Homo sapiens: one gene and its partners. The protein of the gene in region 1 purifies or fractionates together with the protein of each later gene. This does not show direct contact. Each region holds a gene or a part of one and is shown on either strand. Other genes may lie near its edges. The genes, in order: ZFP41, FBLN1, LIMA1 and NOTCH2.

What was found.
Region 2: the proteins of ZFP41 (region 1) and FBLN1 purify together in Homo sapiens (affinity purification with mass spectrometry; 3 studies listed by BioGRID and IntAct, with this or other methods). This does not show direct contact.
Region 3: the proteins of ZFP41 (region 1) and LIMA1 purify together in Homo sapiens (affinity purification with mass spectrometry; 3 studies listed by BioGRID and IntAct, with this or other methods). This does not show direct contact.
Region 4: the proteins of ZFP41 (region 1) and NOTCH2 purify together in Homo sapiens (affinity purification with mass spectrometry; 3 studies listed by BioGRID and IntAct, with this or other methods). This does not show direct contact.

Annotation. Positions count from the first base shown.
Region 1 is NC_000008.11:143,242,892-143,249,938, forward strand, and holds the start of ZFP41 (zinc finger protein 41 homolog), read left to right. Parts: upstream 1-4,047; 5' UTR 4,048-4,251; exon of another isoform or gene 4,252-4,858; intron 4,859-6,798; 5' UTR 6,799-6,952; coding exon 6,953-7,047. UniProt on the Homo sapiens protein: A putative DNA-binding regulatory protein associated with meiosis in spermatogenesis.
Region 2 is NC_000022.11:45,505,877-45,512,900, forward strand, and holds part of FBLN1 (fibulin-1 isoform D precursor), read left to right. Parts: intron 1-7,024. UniProt on the Homo sapiens protein: Incorporated into fibronectin-containing matrix fibers. May play a role in cell adhesion and migration along protein fibers within the extracellular matrix (ECM).
Region 3 is NC_000012.12:50,203,499-50,210,522, reverse strand, and holds part of LIMA1 (LIM domain and actin-binding protein 1), read left to right. Parts: intron 1-4,454; coding exon 4,455-4,539; intron 4,540-5,822; coding exon 5,823-5,971; intron 5,972-7,024. UniProt on the Homo sapiens protein: Actin-binding protein involved in actin cytoskeleton regulation and dynamics. Increases the number and size of actin stress fibers and inhibits membrane ruffling. Inhibits actin filament depolymerization.
Region 4 is NC_000001.11:119,919,652-119,926,675, reverse strand, and holds part of NOTCH2 (neurogenic locus notch homolog protein 2 isoform 1 preproprotein), read left to right. Parts: intron 1-64; coding exon 65-177; intron 178-865; coding exon 866-1,371; intron 1,372-2,691; coding exon 2,692-3,039; intron 3,040-3,897; coding exon 3,898-4,040; intron 4,041-4,229; coding exon 4,230-4,440; intron 4,441-4,866; coding exon 4,867-4,963; intron 4,964-6,278; coding exon 6,279-6,447; intron 6,448-7,024. UniProt on the Homo sapiens protein: Functions as a receptor for membrane-bound ligands Jagged-1 (JAG1), Jagged-2 (JAG2) and Delta-1 (DLL1) to regulate cell-fate determination.

The DNA of each region.
Region 1 (7,047 bases):
AAAAATCAGGGCTTCCAGGCAGAAACATCAAATAACTTTCAGGAGCATGAGAATTAGATGGGCCTGAAACTCCTCAAAATCAATAAAAATGAACATAGCAACAACGAAGCAGCATTTTCAAAAATCTCAAGAAAAGGGAGAAAACAACGAACTGTGCAGCCATTCAAGCTTTCCTTCAAGGAATTACAGCTTCAAGAGAGCAGTTTTAAACTTGCCAGAGCTCAGGGGTCCTGCAACTATAGGCCCATCAGGAGGAACCTCCTAGATGGGCTTCCTCCAACCACAAGCTGCTTACGGGTCAGCCGTAAGACCCACGGGGGTGATACATTGAATGGTAGACCCAACATAGAAAGAGAAGTGCAGTCGAGAGGGGAAGAACCATATGTGCTGTGTGTGTTCTGACAAAGTTGAAATGGCATGACTTCAAAAAAAACACCAGGAAGAGGAGGAGGAGTGGGAGGAGGAGAAGGGGGGGAGGAGGAGGGGGAGGGGGAGGGGGATGAGGGGGAGGGGAGGAGGGGGAGGGGGAGGAAGAAAAGGGAAAAGCTCCCGGGTGGTTGTGCAGGCAGTAGGGAAAAGTGAAAGGGCACCATTCAATCCAACAGGCCAGACAGTAAACCACTCAGGAGGAAAGCAGTTCTCTGTCCCTCTCTAAGCTAAGAGACCGAAGTGTTTGTCTCCTGTCCTCAGTCCTCTTCTCTGGTGGCTGTCCCCTGCAGAGCAGACTGGGACCCCACTCACTAGCAATAGGACTCCCACATCGGAACATAGGACTGTGACCCAGAGGTGCCCAGGCAGCCATGAGAGGCAGCCCGCCACCCAGAACAAGAGGCCTGGGCTTCCGGGCAGCTCCAGCCTTTGCAGCACGCAGGCAGGGCACAAAACAGGGATGTGCGAGAGAAATGAGGAGCAGAGACATGGCAGAGCCTGGGGCCCCCAGCCCCTCTTCAGAGAGGCTGCCTCTGTGGGAAGCTCTGCAGGAAAGGGGTCCTCAGCCCTTGGAGCTTCTTTCCATATTTACAGGGTAGCTGGAGCGGGGGGGTCTGGTGACAATGGGAGATTCCGGGCCAGGGAAACAGCCTCTGCCCACATATCACATACCAATGGTGTTGGCACCAAATGGAGTCTCTGGTGGGCCGGCCCAGCCACCACCACGCCTGAAGGGACTGGAGGGGCCACCTGGCTCATTTAGAAGGCAAGGGGCTGTCTCTTTTGAGATAGGGGAAGGACACCTTTCTCCTTCTTCTGCTTTTGTTTTTTGTTTGTTTGCTTTTGTTTTTTTTTTTGAGATGGAGTCTCGCTTTGTCACCCAAGCTGAAGTGCAGTGGCATGATTTCAGCATCACTGCAACCTCTGCCTCCCAGGTTTAAGCAATTCTTTTGCCTCAGCCTCCCAGGTAGCCAGAACTACAGGCACGTACCACCACACCCGGCTAATTTTTGTATTTTTAGTAGAGACAGGTTTTCACCATGTTGGCCAGGCTGGTCTCGAAGTCCTGACCTCAAGCAATCCACCCACCTTGACCTCCCAAAGTGCTGGGGTTACAGGCATGAGCCACTGCGCCCACCCTGCCATTCTTATTCTCAGTCTTATTCTCTCTGTCCCAGCCCCATCAGTCATCAATTGCTCAATAAATATGGATTAGGCACCTGCTATGGGCTATGTGTTGGCCCCCGATAATACAAAGATGAAAAAGACAAGCCCTGACCGAGGGTCATGTGCAGCATGTAACCTGTATGGACAGCTACCCACGCAGCCTTGGCCTAAGGCTGGCAGGGGCGAGGCCGGGGCTGGCACAGAGGAGCTCGAACAGGTGGAGTCTTAAAAAGCAGGAAAGGGTCTGTCAGGCGGAGGCGGAGCGGGGGTGTTCAAGGCCCAGGGTTGAGGCATGCAGCCGATGCTGTGTGGCAGGGCAAGCACTTGCTGCTGAGTCTCCTGGAAGGGGAAAGGGTGGTGAGAGGGGCGGCCTGCAAGTCTGTGCAGGCCCCTTTGCAGCTGCTAAGGGGGCCCAGACCTCATCCTGCAGGACAGGCGTGAAGCTGGGAGGGCCACTGTGGGTTTGCCCGGTAAGTCAGTCCCTCCAGCTGCTGTAGGAGGGGTGGACAGGGGAGCCCAAATGAAGGCAGGGAGACCCCAGGGCAGGGCACAGAAGTAATGCTGGTGAGAGGAGATGGGGTTGCAGCCGGGACAGAGGAAGCAGGCTGGACAAGAGTGGGTGGTTTAAAACATTGGGAGGTAAAAGCAACAGGATGGGAGAGGGGGGTGGGACGAGGAGGGAGCAGAACTGCCTGGTTTTCAACACCTTGCTAAGTCCAGGAGGCAGTTGGAGAGAGGGCTGGGTGGGGGCAGGCAGTTCCTAGGGTGCCACGACACCAGCAGCACCTAAGATCTCCACTCATGCTCACTCAGTCCACACGACACGAGGGCCCAGCACACATCAGGCACCCAGAACAAGAACAGGTGGCTGCCCTCCAAGAGCTGATTTGCATGGGAGTGTGGGAGCGGGGGATAATTAATAATAAATATAATAAGGAAATCATATAGAAAGTGGAAATGGGAAGTGTTGGGGGGGCAGAATGCTGCAGATATCCTAAGGAGATGTGCCAGAGCCAGCCCAATGCCCATCCTTCCCTTGGCTACAGGCGGCACTTGTGACTTGAATCTGAGTAGAACTGGGCCGAGGGGGTGGCATGTCACCCACAATTAGGTTCTGTTCCACAGGACTCCATCTGGGGGTGGGGCTCTCCCACGGACCCTGGGGAAGCGGCCACCCTGTGAACCGCCCACCCTCCCACAGTAGGGACTGGCAGGCAGCCCCCGGGAGCTGAGAGCAGCTCCTGCCGGCCCTCAGTCCTACAGGCACCAGGACATGACTTCTGCCAGCAATCGCATGAGGTGGGAAGTGATCCTTCCCCAGTCCAGCCCCCAGATGAGAACACAGCGGCTGACCAGAGCTGAGGACCCAGCTAAGCCTGGCCTTCTGGCCCACAGAAGCCTTGAGATAATAGGCGGATGTCGTTTTAGGACACCCAATTTGCGGTACGTAGGGAACTAACACGCGGGGCTCTGGCGGGCCTGGCGGCTCAGTGCGATCTGGGCAGGCAGGAAGTGGAGTGAGCACAGCCAGCGGCTGGGAGCACATCCCGGAGGGGCTGCCTGCGGCGGGAGGAGCGGCAGGGGCCACGTGGTGGGGGACGGCTCGCCAGGGCGCGCACGCGGTGGCGGCGGCGGTGGAGGCGTTGCCCGCCTAGCTAGGGGCCCGCGGCCTGGAGAGGCGTCGGTTCTCCTTCCGCGCTGAAGGCGGAGACAGCGACTTCCCGTGGAGGCAAGCCGTGGGCGCCGCGGAGGCGGGGGCTGGGGGTCGGCGGAGGCGGGAGCTGGGGGTCGGCGGGGGCTGGGGGTTGGCGGGGAGCGTCCTCAGGGACAAGTCTCCCAGCACGCGGCCGCGACCTCCCCGTTGGGGGTCTGGAGCCAGGAGCCCACGCGCGTCGGATCCGGAGAGTCTGGTGGGCGCAGCCTACGTGACAGGGTCGGCTCGGGACCGAGCTGCTGGGGACTGGGCCTTGCGGGGCGGGGCCGCTGGGGGCGGGGCATGAGGGTGCCGGTTCGGGGCGGGGCTTTTTGGGGGCGGGACATGGGGCGGAGCCTGGGGGCGGAGCATGTGGGGAGGTGGCTGGGGAGGAACTTTCGGGGGCGGGACACGAGGGCGGAGCCTGAGGGGGCGGGGCATGAGGGGAAGCCGGCTCGGGAAGGAGCTTTCGGAGGCGGGGCCCGCTCGGGGAGGGACCTGATTTCGGGGGAGCCTTCGGGAGGGCGCCTGCCATAGACGACTGTAAAGGGGCGGGGTCAGCTCGGGGAGGACCCTGCGGGCGTGGCGGCAGTTATGGGTGAAGCCTGAGGGGGCGGGGCCTGATCGGGGCGGGGTCTTCGGGGGCGGAGTCGGCTGGGGATGGAGCCGCTCGGGCCGAGCCCTCCACCGCCCACCATCACCGAGTCCGGCCCAGGCTCCTAGCGCGGCCGCCGGAAGGGGCGGGTCAGCGGGCGGGCATTTCCTGCCGGTGCCTAGGGCCGACGGGGACGCTGGCACTGGTGGGGAGCTGTTGGGGGGTCCCGCATCTAGGGCTCTCCTTTCCTGCCTCCGGCCCCCGCGAGGGGCGCGCGCCTCTCCCCGCCCTCCAGCAGTCCTGGTAGGGCCCGGGCGCGTCCGCGCTCTGCAGCGGGAGGTCCTCGTCGCCTCTCGTCTCCAGCCAGGTACTCACTGGGCTCCTGCCTGCCGCCTCCGGCCCAGGACGCGCAGCGTCGGTATGGGCCCCGCCGCCTCCCCGCACCCCGGCGCTCCAGGGATGTGGCAAGACCCGGCTTTGAGCACCTCCCGGGCGCCGGCCCCGAGGCCGACCTAGCTCTGCACGTGGGCCGCGGGGCTCTGCCGTTGAAAGGAGAGCCTCTAACTAGGAGCACGCACGGGACCCTGGCGGGCCCCTCCGCCTGGCTCAGATGCCTGGCATCTCAGGCCTTGGCACAGCTAGCAGGCCCCTGGCAGGCCGTGGACCCAGCAGGCTGTTTTAGTGCAGATTGCCCCTGAATCTCAAGCCCACTAATGTTCCAGTCTCTCCATGAGACCCAGATCCCTGAAAGTAGTGGAGGGAGGCGCCAGGGTGAGTGAGGTTTTCTAGGCAGCCCTTACCGCCCACGGATACCCAGAGCTTCATATTACAAGTGAAGGGTCCTCCGCCCAGAGAGGCGACGGAGCTACGCTGGAGTTGCACGACAGAACCAGAACCCCAGTCTTTAGGGGTGTGGCAAGCGTGGGTTGCGCTGTTTGTAACTAGCTAATCACTCCTGTCTACAGGCCTGTGAGGTGAGGCCAAGAAAATCGCTATGGTCCAATCCGTTTTTGTTTTTTGCGTGTGGGGTTTTTTGTTTTGGTTTGGTTTGGTTTTTTTGTTTGAGACGGAGTCTTGTTCTGTCGCCAGGCAGGAGTGCACTGGCGCGACCTTTGCTCACTGCAACTTCTATCTCCTGGGTTCAGGCAATTCCCCTCCCTCAGCCTCCTGAGTAGCTAGGACTACAGGCACGTGCCACCACGCCCAGCTAATTTTTTGTGTTTTGGTAGGGACAGGGTTTCACCATGTTGGCCAGGATGGTCTCGATCTCCTGACCTCGTGATCCGCCCACCTCGGCCTCCCAAAGTGCTGGGATTACAGGCATGAGCCACCGCGCCCGGCCAGTCCACTCTGCTTTTAAGAAATATTTTATTTCTCAGGGTGGGCAGCGTGTAGAGAAGTGAGTCATTCCAGTCTCTGCCGGTTAGCACCTGCCAGCCTAAGTTGAGTCGACAGAGCCGTTATGGAGAATGTTCCCTGACCACAGTATGTGACTAGGATTTGGAGATAAAAAAGATACGATCCTCGCCTTCAGGAGACCCTGTCGCATAAGGAGACTGCCATGTCAGTGACCAGCCACACGTGCAGTGACAAGTGTCTGGAAGAAGGAACAGTGCTGTACAGCATGGAGGACCCCCACACAGGCCTCGGGCAGCAGCCGTTAGGCTCAGTGGGTTCACAAACCACCCCCCGCCCCGCCGTGGAGTGGAGTCTGCAGAGAGCCAGATAGGTTCCCGCCATGCCCTGGAGAGCTGCCGTTTCTCCAGCTCCGCCCTGCCCATGAGGCAAACAGCTGGTCGACTGGTCTTCTGTGCTGGTTCTTGGTTCTCACCTTTGTTTCCTACCAGAGCTGGACCCCGGCCTCAAACTCCAGCCAGCTTGGGCTGTGATCCTCTATCCTGGGCACCAGGGCCCACCCCCTGCCCACCCCAGCAGAGATGCTGCTTTATGCCTGCATCCTCCCTCAGCACACGTGGCCTTCATCTTCAGTTCTGGCGCCCACCTGATCTGCCTCCTCCCACACGCCACCTCTAGATAGAGCCCTAGAAAGTGATGTTGGCCTGAAACTGAGTCACATTCATCTAAACATTTTCCTGTAGAAAAGACCAGACCCTCCTTGTTGAGATAGGAAATCTGTAGTGAGTTTATGTGTTACCTGCACTCATGAGGGAGAGGAGGGAAGGCCACCAACCTCCTCTCAACAAAGAGAATTCAAAGTATTTATGTGTTGAGTTGTGTCACTTACGACATGCATATCAGCTCCACTTTCTACCTAGGGTCAACCCTGGCCTCAAACTCCAGCCTGGTTGACCAAGAACTAATACAAAGGGTACGGAATATTATTTCTTAGAATATGACTGGGCATGGTGGCTCCCACCTGTAGTCCCAGCTACTCAGGAAGCTGAGGTGGGAAGGATGTGACATGAGGGGTTCTGCTGGCTGCTGTGGTCCATGGCAGGGGGGCAGCCCTGGTTTCATGAACTCAGAACCCAGCCTCTGGGGGATGGAAGCACTCTCCACTGGGCACGTGTGGTCCCTGCAGCCTGTAGCTTCAAAGCACGGTGACTGGTTCCAAGCCCAGTATGGTGGAGAAGGAGACTACGGCAGGAACCAGGGGGATTCGGGGGTGGAGGAGGGAAGCCGCAGGGCAGTTGGTGGGTACATCAGATCCTGTGGACATGGTGTGCAGACCCGGAACCCCGGCAGAGGAGCAAGGATTCCTTGGTGAGCAACTGATCCCTTCATCGAGACAAGGAAAGGCCGGGAGAGAGTCAGGTGGGGCTCCGGGGAGATCAGCAATGCCGTTTGAGACACTCTTGGGGGAACACATGGGAAGGGAGGGGCCGCACCTGAATCCCACATCCCCTGAAAGGCAAACCTTTAATCTGAGGTTCATGTTCTTGCTTCTCCCCAGCACCAAGAGGATGGTGGCCCTTGGCCTCCTGGTGCAGAGCATCAGTCCCACGCTGGGAGTGTGGAGAGGTGCGTGGGAAGCAAGCCATTGAGGAAGTGGGGCCAACAGAGAGGTCAGCAGCCCCTTAGCCCTCACGCTTCCAAGGAACAGAATGATGGAGAAGCCTGCAGGCAGAAAAAAGAAGACGCCGACCCCAAGGGAGGAGGCAGACGTGCAGAAGAGTGCGCTCAGAGAGGAGAAGGTGTCCGG
Region 2 (7,024 bases), on another chromosome or scaffold:
TTCTCCTGCTTCAGCCTCCCCAGCAGCTGGGATTGCAGGCGCCCATCACGCCCAGCTAATTTTTGTACTTTTAGTAGAGATGGGGTTTCACCATCTTGGCCAGGCTAGTCTCGAACTCCTGACCTCAGGTGATCCACCTACCTCGGCCTCCCAAAGTGCTGGAATTACAGGTGTGAGCCACCGTGCCGGCTGGCAGCCCTGTTATTAATGTTAGCTATTATTCCTGTTGTCCCCTTCTCTAGGAAGTGTTGGCACCAGGAGCCTTCGCAGCCCTTGGGGGCTCCCTGGCGGCTCCTTGGAGGAGATGAGGCTTGATGTGAGGGGAGCGCGGGAAGAGCGCAATTCTGCCAATACCCCAGAATTGTTTTCCCCAAGATGCCTCTGCACATTCTACTACTACTGAATTTCCCAGCCAGGCGCTGAGCAGAAGGCCCCATGGGGCTATAGGACTGGTAGTCGTCAGTGCCAAACCCGTGTCAGGAAAGGTGGTGTTCTTAGCCATTCAGTCATTCATTCACTAAGGGACAGCTCAGTGCCAGACACTGCTCTATAACTTGTGGATGTGGCAGGAAAGGAGAGAGACCCAGTTTTTCCCCCTCATGCAACTAGGAGATCCAGAAAAATGAACTGAGCCCTACTGGCAGAGTCAGGGAAGACTTCCCGGAGGAAGCGGCATGCAAACTGGGAACCTAAGGAGGAAAAGGCAGTGGCTAAGTCTGTGGGTAGGGCTGGGAGGATGGGGGAAAGGGTGTTCCTGGCAGGGGAAATGGCAGGGCCAAATACCTGGAAGGAAGAGAAAACACGAGACTTCCAGGGAAACCCCCTCCTTCTACCCACTTCCAGTTCCTTCCAGTTCCACCCCCTCCTCACCACTGGGGGAGACTGTGCTGTCTAGAGACTTCTCCAGCAGCTTCCCTGACCTGGTGAGACTTTAAGCCCGGGCTCTGAGCACTGGGCACCTGGTCAGGGCCGCCTTCCAGGTGAAGTTTATTAGAACAGTTCTAAGAGGGCATGTAGTTATTTTGCCAGCATATTTTATACAACAAGATTTTCCTTTTGCAGAATAGCAAATCATAACAATTTGATGAATGAATCCTTTCGTAGGCCCCATATGGTTCCAGTTTCCTTGTGATGATCTCACATGTGGCCCTATAAGTAAACAGGGTGGGAGGGGGGAACCACTGTGTCAACTTCCCTGGGATAGGAGACCCCCTCAGGCTGGAGGGGAGCTCAGGACTGGCTAAGTCATCTGCCACAAGTCACCCAGCGAGGAGCGGGGCTGGGGCTGGGCCTAGAGCTGGGCTGGGCCCCACCTCCTTTAACCCCACAGTGGTCCTAACTAGAGGCTGGGGTGGGAGGGAGCGAGGCACCAGTCGCCATAGCTTCCTACAGGTTATTTGCGGGTTACTACACTGTGCGGAGCCAACATGAGAAGGGGGTTAGGAAGCTGTGTGTTGGTCCCAATTCTGAAAGTGTCTGGAGAGATCTTGATGACACCCACAAACTCTCTGCCTCTGTTTCCTTCACTATAAGATGTGAGTGTCCTCTGGGTAATTATTATAGGTGAAATGCTTTACATTTAGTAACCAATGTCGTCATCTCAGCAGCCCTACGAAATAGGTGATCCAGTGTTGTTTTGAACCTATTTTTATTTTTTATTATTATTTTTGAGACGGGGTCTCACTCTGCCGGCCAGGCTGGAGGGCAGTAGTGTGATCTCGGCTCACTGTAACCTCCACCTCCTGTATTCAAACCATTCTCCTGCCTCAGTCTCCTGAGTAGCTGCGACTACAGGCATGCGCCACCACACCTGGCTAATTTTTGTATTTTTAGTAGAGATGTAGTTTCACCATGTTGGCCAGACTGGTCTTGAACTCCTGACCTCAAGTGATCCACCTGTCTCGGCCTCCCAAAGTGTTGGGATTACAGGCGTGAGCCACTGCGCCTGGCCCTGTTTTTCATTTTGGATCCTGTTACCCACTGGAGTGAAAAGGTCCTGTGAGTTTTGCTACCTAGGTATGAAGCCCGGCTTCTTGTTTTGGCCTAGAACTCCTCTATGGACCTGCACAGTGCCATTTCTGAGAGTCACTGATGCGTGTGATAGGTTGAGGATGGAAATCCAACACCTGTGCACCCAGCATGGTCTCCCCACAGCACGGGGACTCGAGCACCTTCCTGCCCCACCCCTGCCCCAGTTCACCTGTGTTACCTAGCTATACCCTCACCCTAGCCCTGCAAAGGAGGTGCTGTCATTGTCCCCCTCATCAATGAGGGGACATGGAGGCCCAGAGAGTCCAGGTAGCAAGACTGTGGGTGCATAGCTGCTAAGTGACAGCAGCAGGACTTGAGCTTGGGCAGCTTGGCCCTGACGTCATACCCCTCACCAGCACACTGGACAGCCTCGCGTATCTTTTTTTTTGAGACGGAGTCTTGCACTGTCTGGGGTGTGATCTTGGCTCACTGCAACCTCTGCCTCCCAGGTTCAAGCAATCCTCCTGCCTCAGCCTCCCAAGTAGCTGGGATTACAGGTGCCCGCCACCACGCCTGGCTAATTTTTTGTATTCTTAGTAGAGACGGGGTTTCACTATGTTGGCCAGAGTGGTCTCTAACTCCTGACCTCGTGATCTGCTCACCTTGGCCTCCCAAAGTGCTGGAATTACAGGCGTGAGCCACCGCGCCCAGCCAGCCTCACGCACCTTTAGAAGACTTGAATCTTTAAGTCTAGTTCAGGGGGGGATGCCTGTTTCCTTTGGAGTGTGATGGTGGGGTGTGTATGAGCTTTACAGTCAGAGCTGGATCTGAAGCCTGCCTCTGCAGAGGCTGCATGGCCTCGGGCAACTTGGTGATTCTCTCTTTGCCCCCACTTTATAGAATACCTAGGATCATGTGAGATCATTTGTGCGTTCATTCATTCACGGACATTTATTGAATGACTGCTTAGGGCAGGCATGGGGGCAGGAGGCAGAATGAGACAGTGTCTGGCTCAGACTCATGGCACTAAGTACAGAGTTAATTATTTGTGCTAAGTGCTGGGAAGCTCAGAGTACAAAGAGACCATGCAAGAAAGAAAACATATTTGTCCCATGTGCATGCGTGTATATGTGCATATGTGTGTGCATTGGCGGTAGTTAGGGAGGACTTCCTGGAGGAAGGGACCTTTGAGCTGGTGTGGCATGAACAAGCTGGCCTGAGGAGAGCAAGCGTCCTGGGACCCTCCAGCCTTTGAAGCTCCAGGTTCCAAATGCCAGGTGCAGAGGATGCATGACAGGTGGCCAGAGGGGTGAGAGGAACACCAGGGGAGATGCGTCCTGGAAGCCCAGGAGGCCCTTGGAGCAGGGTGGGATGTTGCAGAAGGATGAGGATGCCCCTCTGTGCACTGGGCTGATGTAGGAAGTTGCTGCCGGGGCCAGAGCTGCCTGGAGGGAACTGTGGGGAGAATGCTTCTCGCCTTCCCAGAGAGGTACCTTCTGCTCCTTCTCTCTTGCTGCCTCCTCCCGGCTGGTTCACCATCCAAGACCCCTGTCATCTCCATGACAGATGCTGGGAACAGGCTCAGCAGTGGACACAGTCAGGTCTTGTGTTGGGGATGGGGCCAGGAGCCCTAAGAGCAGGCTCCAGTTCGCCCTGCTTCCTCCTGCAGAGGCCAGGTGGTCTTGAAGAGGGGACACGAGTCTGTCCTCATCCTGGAACTGTAAGGGATGCAGGGACATAGGCCAATCTGGCTGGACCCCTGGTGGCTTCCCAGACAACATAGTAAAACTCCGTCTCTACTAAAAATACAAAAAATTAGCCAGGCGTGGTGGTAGGCGCCTGTAATCCCAGCTACTCAGGAGGGGCAGGGTGCAGGTGGGGGTTGGGTGGAGTCGCCCAGTCCTGTTTGGTTGGAACTTTCCATCAGGGTCTCTGTGGTTGACATCTTGTTGCATTTCAGGCTTTTCGGTTCCTTGGTTCTGGACACCACGGAGGCCACTCCAACTCTTTGCTGTAGCTTTAGACAATGCTGTGGGGCAGGTGGGGTGGGGGCATGATCCTTTTGTGTGGTGAGTCCGGGAGGCACACAGGATGAAGCCTCAAGCTCCCATTCACTTTTAAAAACTCCTGACGCCCTCAGCTGCCTCTGAGTTTTTGAGCTTGAGCAGAGGAAATCAAGGAAATTGAGGCTGGCTTCTGATCACATGCCTTTACTTCATCCCCAGCTATTCACGGAGCTTTGCCAACTTAAAATATCCTCATTTGCCCGATGAGGATATTAAAATAAAAAACAGACACCCATTCAACCACCATCTCATATCGTCACCACTTCACAGAGGTAGGGGACATTTTAATGCCCCGGATTTTGGAAGGACGCGGTCTCACAATAAAAGACAGTATTGTAGATGGAATCGGGCCGGCTTTGTAGAGGTCCCTGGATCCTGCTTTGCTTTCACCCTATTTTGTTGCAACCCAGTGGAAATTTTGCCAGAGCAATGCCCTTACACAGGGTGGGATTGGGGAAGCCTGCTCTTAACTGCAGGCCAAATCCTCCATTCAGTTTATAAATGAAAAAACTGAGGCCCGGACTTGCTCCGGGTGGGAAAACTCTCAACCATGAGATCAGAAGCAGACTCCAGGCCTCCCGGTTCCCAGCCCCCAGTCTCCCCTCTGTGACAGTCTGCTTGCTCAGCAACCTGGGAATTAAGATCCTCGTGGCTCACAGGCTGCTGGGGATGGGATCAGGCATTGCCCAAAGCTTCTGCGATGTTTACAGCTAGCAGGCTGACATTCTGGAAGCTTCCACCCAAGGAGTGGTACAGAATCTCTCTGAGCATCTGTAGTCTTAGAAAGAGCACGTGGCCATATCCTTCCTGGGTGTCCAGGGCATGGTCCCCGCAGGCCATGTGACCTGTGTTTCTCTGCATGCCTTGGAACATGGGGCATGCCGCTGATCTACACCATAATCTTTATGGAGGTTTAACTCACCTGGAAAAAATTTAGTTTTAGCAGCTGTCCCAGGCAACAAACGGTATCTGAGGCCTGTGAACTGAGCCAGCTCCATCCATCTGCACCAGTTACTCCGGCAGGCATGTGTCTCTCCTGAAGAGAGGTGGTGGATGTGGTGGCGTGTTGGCCATCGGGCACCGTGTCAGCCTGGAGGAGTGTGTGGTTCCTTTGAAAAAGAATGTTCTCCCAATCCTGGTGTGATAACTTTTCCTTTTGTTTAATTTTGAAGCTTCTGTTTTTTCCTGTGGTCAGTGTGCTAATGTAAGCACTTTTCCTGGATTATCTCATCAATCTTCCCCCATTTTTTTTTTTTTTGAGACAGAGTTTCGCTCTTGTTGCCCAGGCTAGAGTGCAATGGCATGATCTCAGCTCACTGCAACCTCTGCCTCCTGGGTTCAAGTGATTCTCCTGCCTCAGCCTCCCGAGTAGCTGGGATTACAGGCATACGTCACCATGCCTGGTTAATTTTGTATTTTTAGTAGAGACGGGCTTTCTCCATGTTGGTCAGGCTGGTCTCAAACTCCCAACCTCAGGTGATCCACCTGCCTCGGCCTCTCAAAGTGCTGGGATTACAGGCATGAGCCACCATGCCTGGCTTTTTTTTTTTTTTTAGACAGTCTCACTCTGTCACCCAGGATGGAGTACAGTGGCACGATCTTGGCTCACTGCAACCTCTGCCTCCCGGGTTCAAGTGATTCTCTCACCTCAGCCTCCTGAGTAGCTGGGATTTCAGGTGCCCGCCACCATGCCCAGCTAATTTTTGTATTTTTAGTGGAGACTGGGTTTTACCATGTTGGCCAGGCTGGTCTCGAACTCCTGGACTGAAGTGATGTCTGCCCACTTCAGCCTCCCAAAGTGCTGAGATTACACCCATGAGCCACTGCTCCCGGCCTCTTCCCCCATTTTTACAGATGAAGGAAGTGAGCCTCCTTGAGTCTTAGTAAGGGAGGGAGCTGGATTCAAGGCTGAGCAGTTTTAACCCGCAGCGTTGCCTTCCCTGGGAACATTCGAGTTGAAGGTTAACGAGATTTTGCAAGAGTTTGCTCTTGGTTTATATCTAATATTATGCTTTGGATCTAACTCACATGGTCAGATGCAGGGGTCAGATTGAGACTGGTTGATTGAAACTCCTCCGAAACAACAGGAAATGATCTGGGAGAGAAGATTCCAGGTCCCCTGAGGCCCTGCTTCTCTCTTGATCCCCCACAGCCCAGTGTCGAGTTACCAGCGAGTGCCTGTTCTGCTTGGGTGGGTGTCCAGTGTGGTACTGGTCAGAGGTAATTTTTGGATCTCAGAGCTGCTCACAGCTGTTGGCGGTCTGGGATGGAAGAAGCAGGCGTGGCTTCGGTTGGCCCACATTATCCTCCTGACTCACAGTGTTCCAGGGCTGCTCAGCTGCCCTAGGGTTTGTGTACAAATGGCCTTGATTTGACACCCTTCTGAAGGTGGGGGGCCTGACTGATCAGGCAGTTGGTTGGATGCTGTTGACCCCCGCAGAACTCTTGGTACCTATGAGGCGTGGAGTTGGCGTGGGGGATCTGTTAGCCCCAGTCCCCTTTTTGCCCCCACCCCAGCCTGGCCGAGAGTCCTGGGCAGGCACTGAGAAGGCAACACATGGGGTAGGACTTGATGAGCAGGTGGATAGGACAGTGAGGTGGGAGGTGCCTCTGTGGGCCTCAGATGGTCCCCAGCCTGTGTGATGGGGCAGCGAAGCTCAGGACACCTGGTGTTTGGATATCCACAGGTGACCGGATCCCCAGGCAAATGAGCAGCTGGAAGTCCCTGCAGGGATGCGGGAGGCACAGCCAGGGTGGGGCTGGACCCCAGGCCCTTCCCCACTCCCATCGCCCCACCCTCACAGGACACACGGGGGAGCTGTGATCCTCAGGGTGTTCTTTTGTTTTTAGTTTTTTTGTTTTGAGACAGGGTCTCCCCCTGTCCCCCAGGCTGGAGTGTAGTGGTGCAGTCGTGGCCCACTGCAAGCTTGAACTCCTGGGCTCAAGCGATCCTCCCACCTCTGCCTTCCAAAGTGCTAGGATCATAG
Region 3 (7,024 bases), on another chromosome or scaffold:
GAATTGTGCTTGAACTTTGACAGAAAGCAAATATCTGTATTAAGAACACAGAACCCGTTTCCTTTTGGTTGTTCTTTTCTTTTTTTCTTTTTTTTTTTTTTTTTGGAAATGGGGTCTTGCTCTGTTGCCCAGGCTGGAGTGCAGTAATCTTGGCCCACTGCAACCTCCACCTCCCTGGTTCAAGCGATTCTCCTGCCTCAGCCTCCCCAGTAGCTAGGATTACAGGCACGTGCCACCATGCTCAGCTAATTTTTGTATTTTTAGTAGAGATGGGGTTTCGCCATGTGGGCGAGGCTGGTCTCAAACTCCTGACCTCAAGTGATCCACCTGCCTCGGCCTCCCAAAGTGCTAGGATTACAGGTGTGAGCCACTGCACCCGGCCCCTTTTGGTTTTTCAAAAGAAGTTTATCAGTAGGCTTTCTCCCATTTTGAGTTTTGAAAATTCTAATTTTTGTAGTGGTTATCTTCCAGTGCAGCAGCATTTGGAATAAATATGTGGAATTTTCTTTATTTTAATGATCAGCAAATAAGAAGTATGTTGAAAACAAAATAAAAAGGTGGGCCAGGCGCGGTGGCTTACGCCTGTCATCCCAGCACTTTGGGAGGCCAAGGAGGGCAGATCATTTGAGGTCAGGAGTTTCAGACCAGCTTGACCAACATGGTGAAACCCCAACTCTACCAAAAACTCAAATAATTAGGTGTGGTAGCAGACGCCTGTAATCCCAGCTACTCTGGAGGCTGAGACAGGAGAATTGTGTGAGCTTAGGAGGTGGGGGTTGCAGTGAGCTGAGATCACACCACTGTATTCCAGCCTGGGTGACAGAGTAAGACTCTGTCTCAAAATAAATAAATAAATAAAAATTAAAAATGTGGATTGAGGGTATCCTGCCAGACATATCTTTTCCTTTTGACCAAGATCTTCATTATCTTTTTTCTTTTTTTTTTTTTTTTTTTTGAGATGGAGTCTCGCTCTGTCACCTAGCCTGGAGAGCAGTGGCACAATTTCTGCTCACTGCAACCTCCATCTCTGAAGTTCAAGTGATTCTCAACCTCAGCCTCCTGAGTAGCTGAGATTACAGGTGCGCACCGCCACCCCAGCTAATTTTTGTATATTTAGTAGAGACAGGGTTTCACAATGTTGGCCAGGCTGGCCTCGAACTCTTGACCTCAAGAGATCCACCCACCTTGGCCTCCCAAAGTGCTGGGATTACAGGTGTGAGCCACCGCACCCAACCACTTCATTTTCAGATAGCGGCTGCTCCTAGAGCAAGAGTATGTTGAGCTGTGTGAGTCATATGGATGTATAATAATTCATGAAAGTATGCCTGACCTGTGTGTGATGTAGCACGGATAGTGTTGTTCCAGCTTGTTTTAGTTTTTATTAAAAATAGACCCAATCAGGCCGGATGCAGTGGCCCACACCTGTAATCCCAGCACCTTGGGAGGCCGAGGCTCCTTGAGCCCAAGAGTTTGAGACCAGCCTGGGCAACGTGGTGAGACCCTGTCTCTACTGTAAAAAAAAAAAAAAAAGAAAGAAAGAAAAAATAGACTTAAATCAACAATATAAATTGCAAAGCTGACTGGATATAAATTATTATTATTACTTTTTGAGCAGGGTCTTACTCATCACCCAGGCTGGAATGCAGTAGTGCGGTCACGGCTCACTGTATTCTTTTTTGTAGAGATGGAGTCTTCCTATGTTGCCCAGGCTAGTCTTGAACTCCTAGGCTCAAAGGATCCTCCTGGCTCAGCCTCCCAAAGTGTTGGGATTACAGGCATGAACCACCAAACCCAGCAAGGAGACAAATTATATATACACACACACACATATGTAATATGTATATAATATATTTTTATTTTTATTATTTCTTTTGAGACAGGGTCACACTCTGTTGCCCAGGCTGGAGTGCAGTGGCATGATCTTGGCTCACTGCAACATACACCTCCCAGGCTCAAGCAATTTTCCTACTGCAGCCTTCTGAGTACCTGGGACTACAGGCGCATGCCATAATGCCCAGCTAACTTTTGGTTTTTTTTGAGACGGAGTCTTGCTTTGTCACCCAGGCTGGAGTGCAGTGGCCTGATCTCTGCTCACTGCAACCTCCGCCTCCTGGGTTCAAGCGATTCTCCTGCTTCAGCCTCCTGAGTAGCTGGGATTACAGGTGCGGGCCACCACGCCTGGCTAATTTTTTTGCATTTTTAGTAGAGACGGGGTTTCACCATGTTGGTCAGGCTGGTCTCGAACTCCTGACCTCGTGATCCTTCTGCCTCGGCCTCCCAAAGTGCTGGGATTACAGGCGTGAGCCACCGTGCCCAGTCTAACTTTTGTATCTTTTTTGTAGAGACAAGGTTTTGCCATGCTGCCCAAGCTGGTCTCAAACTCCTGGGCTCAAGTGATCCACCTGTCTCAGCCTCCCAAAGTGCTAGGATTATAAGCTTGAGCCACTGTGCCTAGCCTTGGGAGATATATTAAATATATATTGAATTTGAAAGAAACTATTCTTACTGGTGTGGTATAAACAGACCAATCCTTGGCTCTGATTTCTGATGTGGTATGTTTTCTGTCTCCAAGGAGGGGGTATAAAAAATATGTAAAAGTGATAGTTCACTTTCTTTTCTTTTTTTTTTTTTTTGAGACAGGGTCTCACTCTGTTTCTCAGGCTGGAGTGCAGTGGAGCGATCTCTGCTCCCTGCAACCTCTGCCCCCCTGGTTCAAGCAATCCTCCCACCTCAGCCTCCCAAGTAGCTGGGACCGCAGGTGCATGTCACCACACCTGGCTAATTTTTTGTATTTTTAGTAGAGACAGGGTCTCACCATGTTGCCCAGTCTGGTCTCAAATTCCTGAGCTCCAGCAATCTGCCCGCCTTGGCCTCCCAAAATGGTGGTTTTACAGGTGTGAGCCACCATGCCCAGTCTCACTTCCTCAAACTTTACAGTAAAGTTGATTAGTCCATTGAACTTAAAGATTTAGTAACTATTTACTAATGTTAAATTCAAAAGGGTGCTAAGTGTTTTATTCTTATCTCCTGTCATACTGGATTTCAGATATCTTTTTTAACCTCAAGTTGTCTGGAAATAAACTGAGATTTGAATGATAGGATCTGATGTAAGGATCTCATTATAAGCTGAATAAACATGACATACTCCCTGTGTACTATGTCTGGGAATATTCTTTGACACTACAGTCTTAAAAATTATAATTTGTAACTTTCATTAAAGATCTACCTTAGATATGACAGAGATAAATGTAGTAATTTAATGGAATCACAAAACACTTCATTAAAAAAAATCTTTGTTGGCCAGGCGCAGTGGCTCAAGCTTGTAATCACAGCACTTTGGGAGGCCGAGGTGGGCGGATCACCTGAGGTCAGGAGTTCGAGACCAGCCTGGCCAACATGGTGAAACCCTGTCTCTACTAAAAATATAAAAATTAGCTGAGCATGGTGGCAGGCGCCTGTAATCCCAGCTACTCAGGAGGCTGAGGCAGGAGAATCACTTGAACCTGGGAGGCGGAGGCTGCAGTGAGCCAAGATCACATCACTATACTCCAGCCTGGGTGACGGAGTGAGACTCTGTCTCAAAAAAAAAAAATCTGTGTCATCCACTTTTCTGTAAGTCCTGGAAATATATGGACAAAAAGGCATGGTCTCTGCCCTTAGTGAGCTTACAGTGCAGTAGAGGGACAGTCACCCAACAGTTTGACCAGGTACCTTGAGAACAGAGGAAAGATTACCTAAATTTATGTTGGCAAGGTACTCAGACTTCATAGTGCTTACACTGAGTCTTTGAAGGAACAGGCATTTGTAAGGCAACAGAAGGACAAAGGAGGCTGGCTCGGTAGGGACCAGATCTAGAACAGGACTTCTGTGACTTACTAAGCACTTCGAGTTTAATTTCAGGAATGAGTAGGAATGCTGAAAGAATTTTGAAAAGGAGGGTAAAATAGATTTATATTTTTGGATAATTACTTTGTATTATTGGGGATAATGGTAGCATCATAGAGACTGGATTGGAAGATAATGAAGAACCAGTTAAAGAGGTATAATGCAGTAGTCCAGGGGAAAGATGATGAAGACATGAACTAAGGCAGCAATAGCAGAAATAACATGAGACGGAGAAAGGAAACAGCAGATTCTGCATCAGCACTTGGCAGTTTAGAAGGACATGTCATTGTCATCTGGTATGTGAGGATTCCCCTCCAATAAGTGTTACAAAGCTTGCTGGTTAGGAAGCCATCTTTAGCAGAGAATATTACCTATATAGGGTTACTTATTTTTCCCTGGGCACCTGTGAATGTGTAGTGCTTGATATTTGTAATTTAAAAAAAATTCTATAGAATATAAAATATAAAATCAAATCTGGATTTTATTTATAAAGAAGGTTTGCAAGTTGAACCTTGCGTCAAGATTTCCCATTGTTTCTGCAAAACTTATCGTTGGGTTTCGTTTTCCAGATTCTCCGGGCCCAAAGCCGAAGTGCAAGTGGAAGGAAGATCTCTGAAAACAGCTATTCTCTAGATGACCTGGAAATAGGCCCAGGTAAGCAGAGAGTTCCATGTGTATGAGGTCCTTTAGGAAGTACTCACTAGTAGTAACATCTTTTGGACTCGAAGCCAATGCTTTTAAAGGAAGAGTGGCACAAATTAAAAGGAAGTCTGCCTATTAGATGCAAGCCATTCTCAAATCTCATTGCTCTCGATAAATAGCTTTTTTTTTTTTTTTTTTTTTGAGACGGAAGTTGACGTGCTCCCAAAGTGCTGGGATTACAGGCATGAGCCGTCATGCCCGGCTGCTTTTTTCATATTTTTAATCCACCCTTGTTAGTGGTAACCTATGGTAAGCAAAGGGTACTTTGAGGAGCTATAAGTAAAGTGCTACGATCAGTTTTGCCTCCAGTCATCTGGGGTTTGAGGGCTTCAGTAGATGGGCTGTGTCCCCTATCAGGTTTGGTTACCCTGTATTACCAGTGATAACATAACACTTTGAGAGTGGAATTATGTTTTAAAGGGGACATATACAGGCACTTCACAAAAGAAAAAATTAGTAAAAACAGGAAAACATCAGCTACCTAGTCATCAAAGAAATGTAAATTAAAAAGCATTGAGATCTCTTCTTTTTCATGTTAAATTAGCCAGAATTTTAAAATACGAGCCCAGGCATGGTGGCTCAGACCTATAATCTCAGCACTTAGGGAGGCTGAGACAGGAGGACCACTTAAATCCAGGAGTTTGAGACCAGCCTGGGCAACATAGACCTATCTCTACAGAAAAAAAAAAAAAAAGCCCAGCGTGGTGGTGCATCCTTGAAGTCACTGCTACTTGGGAAACTGAGGTGGTTGGATCATTTGAGCCCAAGACTTCAAAGCTGCAGTGAGCTATGATTGTACCACTGCCCCATACTCTAGCCTGGGTGACAGAGTGAGACCCTGTCTCAAAAAATAAAATATGCAATCCTCAATTATGGTAAGGTTCTTTTAATGCTAAGAAAGTGAGTGAATATTACTTTATAAATGACAATTATATTCCTGATTTTCTTCTTCGTGCTTTTAACAGAAGATATTGGCCATTAGATAAAAATAACCCAAAATTTAGAATTTTGAAATTATTTGAATCACTTTTATCTTCTAATAAAACATGTTGGCCAGTCACGGTGGTTTACACCTATAATTCCAGCGCTTTGGGAGGCTGAGGCGGGAGGATATCTTGAGCTCAGGAGTTCGAGGCTGTAGTGAGCTATGATCGTGCCACTGCACTTCAGCCTGGGTGATAGAGTGAGACCCCATCTCAGAAATAAAATAAAACATGTTATTTGGATGCTTCCAGGTCAGTTGTCATCTTCTACATTTGACTCGGAGAAAAATGAGAGTAGACGAAATCTGGAACTTCCACGCCTCTCAGAAACCTCTATAAAGGATCGAATGGCCAAGTACCAGGCAGCTGTGTCCAAACAAAGCAGCTCAACCAACTATACAGTATGTGTTCTGCATCATTCATTCATTCATTCATTCCATCATCCAGCAGATGGTCACTGAGTACTGGAATTAGGAAATGTCACCAGACCCTTGTATCTGAGCCCTGGTCCCCTAGCTGTTCTCTTTTCACATGAACCCTACCCTCGCTGGATTTGCAGTTCTTACCATGGTCTAATCCTGACTTTGCTTTCTTAGTCCTGGTTCCCACCCCACTCACTTTTTTTGTGATGTTACCAGTGAGTATCATTGAGAGTTTCCCTGGCTCTTCTACTTAATCTTTGTGTTGTTAAAGAAGTAGTATTTTATTAGTTTTAATATAACTCTTATTTTATCTTGGTTGTTGAGGGAAGAAGGAAGAAGACTGAAGAGCTTATTTTGGCTTTTGAGGGAAGAAAGAAGAAGACTGGAGAGAAATATCAGCTGTGTTCATTAACGAGGGTTTTTTTTGTGATTTTTTACTGAGATATAACTCACATAATATAAAATCACCATTTTAAAGTATACAATCTTGTGATACTTAGCATATTCACAAGGTTGTACAACCATTACCACTGTTTAATTCCAGAACCTTTCCATCACCCTGAAAAGAAACTTCATACCTGTGTAGTCACTCCCAACTTCCCCTGCTCTCATCCCCTGGCAACCACTTAGCTACTTCCTGTCTTTATGTATCTGCCTATTTTGGAAATTTCATATGAAGGAGTCATACAGTAGATCTTCTACTTAATCTTTAATCCTTACGATGTACTGTTTTCCTAAAGAAGTAGAATAGTAGATAAGGAAAAGGGAGAGATCACAAGAAGGTGACGTGCTCAGTAAGCATGAAAATTTTGATATTCAGCTGGGTGTGATGGCTCACACCTGTAATCCCAGCACTTTGGGAGGCCGAGGTGGGCAGATTGCCTGAGGTCAGGAGTTCAAGACCAGCTTGGCTAACGTGGTGAAACCCCATCTCTACTAAAAATACAAAAATTAGCCAGCATGGTGGCAGGCACCTGTAATCCCAGCTACTTGGGAGGCTGAGGCAGGAGAATCGCTGGAACCCAGGAGGCA
Region 4 (7,024 bases), on another chromosome or scaffold:
TGTTGAGTAACTTGCAGTGACTACTTCTGCCTTTTAAAACCTTTTTTATTTTTTATTTTCTGAGGCCGGCACTGTGAAACCTTCGTCGATGTGTGTCCCCAGATGCCCTGCCTGAATGGAGGGACTTGTGCTGTGGCCAGTAACATGCCTGATGGTTTCATTTGCCGTTGTCCCCCGGTAAGTGCCCTGTTGCTCATCTAAGAAGGGGCATTGTCTCTTCCATACAATCTGTGAACAGAACTGAGATTAAACCTGGTTTTACCAATCTTCGAAATGGGAAGATTTCTCAATTTTAGCTCTTTCAGAGGAAAGTGCTTGGGTTTTTCCATTTAAAGCTGTTTACAAGTGACAAAACAAAACAAAAACAAATAAAAGCTGTTTAGACACTCCCAGAAACAGTGAGCTTCCCAATCCATGACTGTCAGTCTTAAGAAAAACTAAGGGAAAACCACAAAAAGTGGTGGAGTGCCCCCTTGAAAATAGGGCTGATGTGTGGGGCTTCTTGGCCCCAGGCTGGAGGGTAATCTCACTGCCCAGATTGGGCCAGAGTTGGTGGAAATGCTGCTCTTACATTCTTTAGCAGGAACCATTTGGAAGCAAGTTGTCTCTTAAAGTAGAGGGAAGCTCAATTTTAGCTATTTGCTATACCCATTCTTTTATCACTGCCAGAGGTTGAAACCTTCCCAAAACAAGAGATCCCTATGCCTCGGGAGATACCAAAAGGAAACCTGTCTAGTAACCTTGGCTTGGGCTGAACGGGAAGTACAGAAGGGAGTGAGATGTGGAGGTTTTCTAGAAACCTCAAACTTCCAATATGACTGTTTTCCTACCAATGCCATTTTTATTTCCTCACTGATTTCCACAGGGATTTTCCGGGGCAAGGTGCCAGAGCAGCTGTGGACAAGTGAAATGTAGGAAGGGGGAGCAGTGTGTGCACACCGCCTCTGGACCCCGCTGCTTCTGCCCCAGTCCCCGGGACTGCGAGTCAGGCTGTGCCAGTAGCCCCTGCCAGCACGGGGGCAGCTGCCACCCTCAGCGCCAGCCTCCTTATTACTCCTGCCAGTGTGCCCCACCATTCTCGGGTAGCCGCTGTGAACTCTACACGGCACCCCCCAGCACCCCTCCTGCCACCTGTCTGAGCCAGTATTGTGCCGACAAAGCTCGGGATGGCGTCTGTGATGAGGCCTGCAACAGCCATGCCTGCCAGTGGGATGGGGGTGACTGTTCTCTCACCATGGAGAACCCCTGGGCCAACTGCTCCTCCCCACTTCCCTGCTGGGATTATATCAACAACCAGTGTGATGAGCTGTGCAACACGGTCGAGTGCCTGTTTGACAACTTTGAATGCCAGGGGAACAGCAAGACATGCAAGTAAGGGCTTCACGTTTTCCAGAACTGAAGGGGACTGTCACTAACACACTTCAGTTTCTCGTTCTTGCTCCTAACCACTCCAGTGCTTCAGCCTAAGCTGCCTCTGCTTTTCAGATGGTGCCAGCCTTGTCCCATCGCACACTGCCCTGTGCTCTCCCTTGCTGACAATGGGCCAGGAATGCTCATTGCATAATGACCCTCTCTCTCTGCCTATCTTTGCCTTCTCACCTGCTGCCTTCGTGACCTCCTGGGGGATATAACTTTTGGAAGTGGTGTTTCCCACTTCAAGCAGCCTCTCACATAACCTGCCTGCAGGATGGATGGAAAGGTCTGTATCTCTCTCTTCACCCCATTCCTTTCCCTAAGACTGTTTTTCCCCATCTAGATTTATCAGGAAGCATGAATTAGATTAAGTCTGTGAACCCTCCCGGTCTTAATTGTATAGGATGCTCTATGGTTTACTTAGGAACTTTCCTATTAACTAGCCATTCCATATAATTTAATCCCAATTAATTCTCAGCAACTCACGAGGCATAGGTATTACTAACATTCTTTCATAGGTGAGAGAACTTAGGCCCAAGGGTTAAAGAACTTGCCAAAGCAAGTTGTTTCTTTGACTCCTAATCTTCTGATTGAGCTAGCATGAAAAGTTGTACCAAATAGTATAAATATCAAGGGGTAGGGGATGAGGAGAGGAGAGTATAGATGGAATAGTTTGTACATCATTTAGGTTTGGGGGTTCTAATTCCTTTTCCAAATATTGAAAGAGCCTGTACAAGTAATATCTGGTGTGCTATAAGGACATACCCATCTGCCTTTACCTTCTGTAGTTGGGATTCACTCTTGAAAGGGAAAGAAATGGGTCATGTTAATATTGTTCTCTGTATGGCAACTCTCAATGGTTCAGGGCCTTGTATCAAGTTTCTAGAGGCATCTTTCACTTCCTAAAGCCCGTTGTTACCTTACTGGGGGCAATGGATTTCTCTAAAGTAGAGGAAGCATGAACCAGGTTGACTTTTGTTTCAGATATGCAGCTTTGTTTGAAAACCTGACTTAACAGGCTTGTAAACTGCCTGGGAGCCCCTAAGCTCCTGCAGCATAGTGAGTACAATGTTCTTCATTTAGGAAGTACTCAACAAGGATGAGTGGCATAGGCATCAGGGATAGGAGATGCAAAGAAGGTTTTGTGGGGCATTTGGGTCCTGGGTGTGGGCCACAGAAAATGGGTAGGAAAATCCACAGTAGTTCCAAATGAAAAAGCAAATAGAGCTCCAGTCTAATCTGAGCTCTTTTGCCTGTTCTCTGCTTCCCCTTACCTAGGTATGACAAATACTGTGCAGACCACTTCAAAGACAACCACTGTGACCAGGGGTGCAACAGTGAGGAGTGTGGTTGGGATGGGCTGGACTGTGCTGCTGACCAACCTGAGAACCTGGCAGAAGGTACCCTGGTTATTGTGGTATTGATGCCACCTGAACAACTGCTCCAGGATGCTCGCAGCTTCTTGCGGGCACTGGGTACCCTGCTCCACACCAACCTGCGCATTAAGCGGGACTCCCAGGGGGAACTCATGGTGTACCCCTATTATGGTGAGAAGTCAGCTGCTATGAAGAAACAGAGGATGACACGCAGATCCCTTCCTGGTGAACAAGAACAGGAGGTGGCTGGGTAGGTGTTTGGTTTCTGAACTTCAAGGCTAATTTTATGAAGCCTAGCACTTTGACATATAGCACAAGTCATAACTCAACCTATAGAAATGCAAAGATCAGAAAAATAGAATGGCCCACCACTTAAGATAAACCCGTTACCCCAGTACTTACGTTTAAATGTAAAGATATGCCTTCGTCTTGGCTGAAAAGTGGGCAGGGGTACACAGGAGGCAGAATGTCTGGAAGGCCTCCTCAGATGCCAGAATCCATAACCTTTTGCCAGAGTTGCCTCAAATCCCTTTATTAGTGACATTCCTTTTTACATTAATCATTGCCTTATTGTTAAGGCCCTTCTTTAGAATATATGTCTCTTTGACACAGGTAATGATCTTCAGTTGCTCTGTCATTCACACCTCACTCTTTGTTGGTATATTGTCAAACTTTCAACCCTCCAGCTAGCTGAGATACCAATGCAGAGACAAAGGAAAATAAGGACTAAAAACACACAGGGATGTATGTTTAGAGTAGCACCAAGTACCACTGAGTAGGTATGAAAGAGTGGAAGAAGACCACTGAAACCTTCGGGAGGAAAGCACAGCTTCTCACTTTGTCATGCATTGCCTCAGCCAGAAGGCTTTGGTCAGCCAGACTAAGGAAGGTGGGACATCCTCTATGTGGGAATTAGTGTTTAAGATCTCAAGGGACAGTATTCTAATTCCTGAGATATGTCTTAAGGCAGCATCCCAGAGGTGGGGACCTGATGCTGAAGGGGAGGAAGGGAGGCTCCTGTCACCCTTTATGACATGTTCTGCCTGACCTGCACTCTTCTGTTTTACCCCCATCTCTCCTCCTCCGCTTCTCCCTTGGCATCCCACAGCTCTAAAGTCTTTCTGGAAATTGACAACCGCCAGTGTGTTCAAGACTCAGACCACTGCTTCAAGAACACGGATGCAGCAGCAGCTCTCCTGGCCTCTCACGCCATACAGGGGACCCTGTCATACCCTCTTGTGTCTGTCGTCAGTGAGTGGCACTGGTGTAAAGGGGAAAGGTGGCGGGGGAAGAGTGTCAATTGGGGGAACAATTTTCATTATGTAGCCCTCTATTTTTTCAGGACTGTTGAGGTCAAAGTTGCCCTCTAAATGAATCTAATGCTGACATTGAGAGGTTAATGTTTTATTCAGCACTTTCCCTGTCTCTGTGGACTTTCAGGTGAATCCCTGACTCCAGAACGCACTCAGCTCCTCTATCTCCTTGCTGTTGCTGTTGTCATCATTCTGTTTATTATTCTGCTGGGGGTAATCATGGCAAAACGAAAGCGTAAGCATGGCTCTCTCTGGCTGCCTGAAGGTTTCACTCTTCGCCGAGATGCAAGCAATCACAAGCGTCGTGAGCCAGTGGGACAGGATGCTGTGGGGCTGAAGTAAGAGGCATTGCCAATAAGCCACTATTCACAGTATAAGTAGGGATGACTAGAAAAGCATATCTTGTTGAATCATGATTTTAAATTCTAAGCTCTGGGCATTTACTCACATTGACCATGATTCTAAATGCCTTGTGAGTGACTGAAACCACAGTCAGAGCGTGGGTGCATCTATTCTGTGTATATTATCACAATGCCGCCCAGCTTCTGTGTTGAGGTGCCCTTTTGTTGTAAGCTCACGATCAATGGGAAGGGAAAGGATGAATGCCAAGGGAATGTCACCAAAAATACTGCCCATCTTCTCTGGGCCAAGACCCTGCAAAATTGTAATATAGCCACGGGAGTGTGTCATGGTGGAAAGTGTTGAAAACCACTGTATTAGTTTATGACTGCCATTCTTATTTTTTCTTTTTATAATCATATTAGAAATCTCTCAGTGCAAGTCTCAGAAGCTAACCTAATTGGTACTGGAACAAGTGAACACTGGGTCGATGATGAAGGGCCCCAGCCAAAGAAAGTAAAGGTGAGGTGGCCATGGTAGAACCACCATTGTCAGCCATTATCTGGTTACATTTCAAATTTCTGTCCTTTAGCTCCAGAGTGTCCTGAATGGGAGTAAAGAGTGATAGTCTTGATGTCTTACCCAGACAATAACTATCCTAGGTTCTCCTAAACAGCAGGAATCCTTAGGACGTAAATGACCTTGGGTTACCTATATATGCTCTTCAAGAATAACTCTTTAAAAATACTAAGCACATCTGTTTCCTTTAGTGTTATGCTGGCAGTAGTCAAGTCAGGAATGGTGTGTGTAGATGGCAATTCCTTCATGGCCACATCTCTTCCTTATCCTTTATGGGCACTTCTTCTATAAGAGAAGATGAAATTAAGCAGTGGAAGAAAGCCAGTTATCATTGACATTGGCAAAATGAAAGCCAGTGATCATGGCAAAACGTTGACATTGGAGGCTCCATACCTTGAGCCCAGGAAACTAAAGCCATATAAAAGCAAGTGGTAGATTGGGCTGAGACTGACATGAAAAAGCAGACCATCCATCCACAGCTGTGCATGGCTGGGAGCTGGTGGAGCATGATGGTTAAGAAGATTGCTTTAGTTAATATCAGAACTGGATTCAAATCCAAAACTCTGCCGCTTAGTAGCTGGCAAGTTACTTAACCTCTTTGTAATTATCCTTCCTTGTAAAATGCGGATAATAATAACCCTTTCCTCTGTGAGTTGTTGTGTTGGCATATGTGCCTTATCTACTTTCCTGTCATGTACTAGGTATTCAGTAAAGGGTAGCTGCTTTTAAATTATCATGATTATTATTATTGAATAGTCTTTCCTGAGTGCTTACTACATGTTGGGTGCTATGTTGAGTACAAGGAAACAACCTTGAACAAGGCTTATTTTCCCTTCTTGAGAAGCTTACAGCCTTGTGGTGGAGATGGCCATGTAGTGCTGTGTAAGCATTTAACACATGATCAGTTAAGCAGAGGTAAGCAGAGTATGCTTTTTAGGGCCAACAAGAAGAATTAAAGTTTACTTTCTAGTGGAGGGTAGGAAAAGTGAGAATTGGGTGCTCTGGAGATCTAAAGGCTAAAGCCTAGAGTTTGGGATTGGGGGAGGGAGTTGTCTAGATGATGCAGGAAAGGTAAGCAGGAGCCACATCACGAGAGCAGTGGGAAGCCAAGGCTGAGGTAATCCTCTGGAGGGGTGGAGGAGTAGGAAGAGAGAAAACAATGGGAGATAAGCAGCGGTGGTGGAGGCTCTGGACACCTTCTGATTAGCAGTTTCTGGTGGTGGCCAGATTGATAGGGAGCATTGTTTTCACCTTTCAGGCTGAAGATGAGGCCTTACTCTCAGAAGAAGATGACCCCATTGATCGACGGCCATGGACACAGCAGCACCTTGAAGCTGCAGACATCCGTAGGACACCATCGCTGGCTCTCACCCCTCCTCAGGCAGAGCAGGAGGTGGATGTGTTAGATGTGAATGTCCGTGGCCCAGGTCAGCACCGGGCCTCTTCCCCTCTTCACTGGGCTGTGTCTGCCCATGGTTCCACATTGTTGTCCCTGTGTTTGCCCTGTCCAGTCATAAACCCCTTCCCAATTTCACAGACTCTAAATCAGCTCGAGGAAATGAATGCTTAAGGAATGTAGCCACAAAGAAATTATCAGCTCAGAAAGGGAAGGATTTCACATTGCTTCATGTACAGTGTGTTGAGACTAAACAGGCTGATAAAATGGGTTAGATTGTAGTGGGATAGAAAAATAATATCCCAAAGCAGAGGATAGTTAGTATCTTATGCATGTATTAATTGTTCTATTAATATTAGATATTTTTAAATGTCCAATTAAAATAACAGCACTTAAACTTGAACAGAAAAACGTGTTTAGAGAAGAGCCCCCAGCTTAAAAAGACTTGTACTTTCCCATTATTCTTTACAGAAATGATACTATCAGAGGAAAAGGTGGCAAATGTGAAACTAATAACCAGTTACTACAAGAAGTACAGGGAATTCTTTGCCCCTAAGAATAACTTTAGTCAAATAGAGCTGTTTCAACCATAGGGTTAACTACCTTCT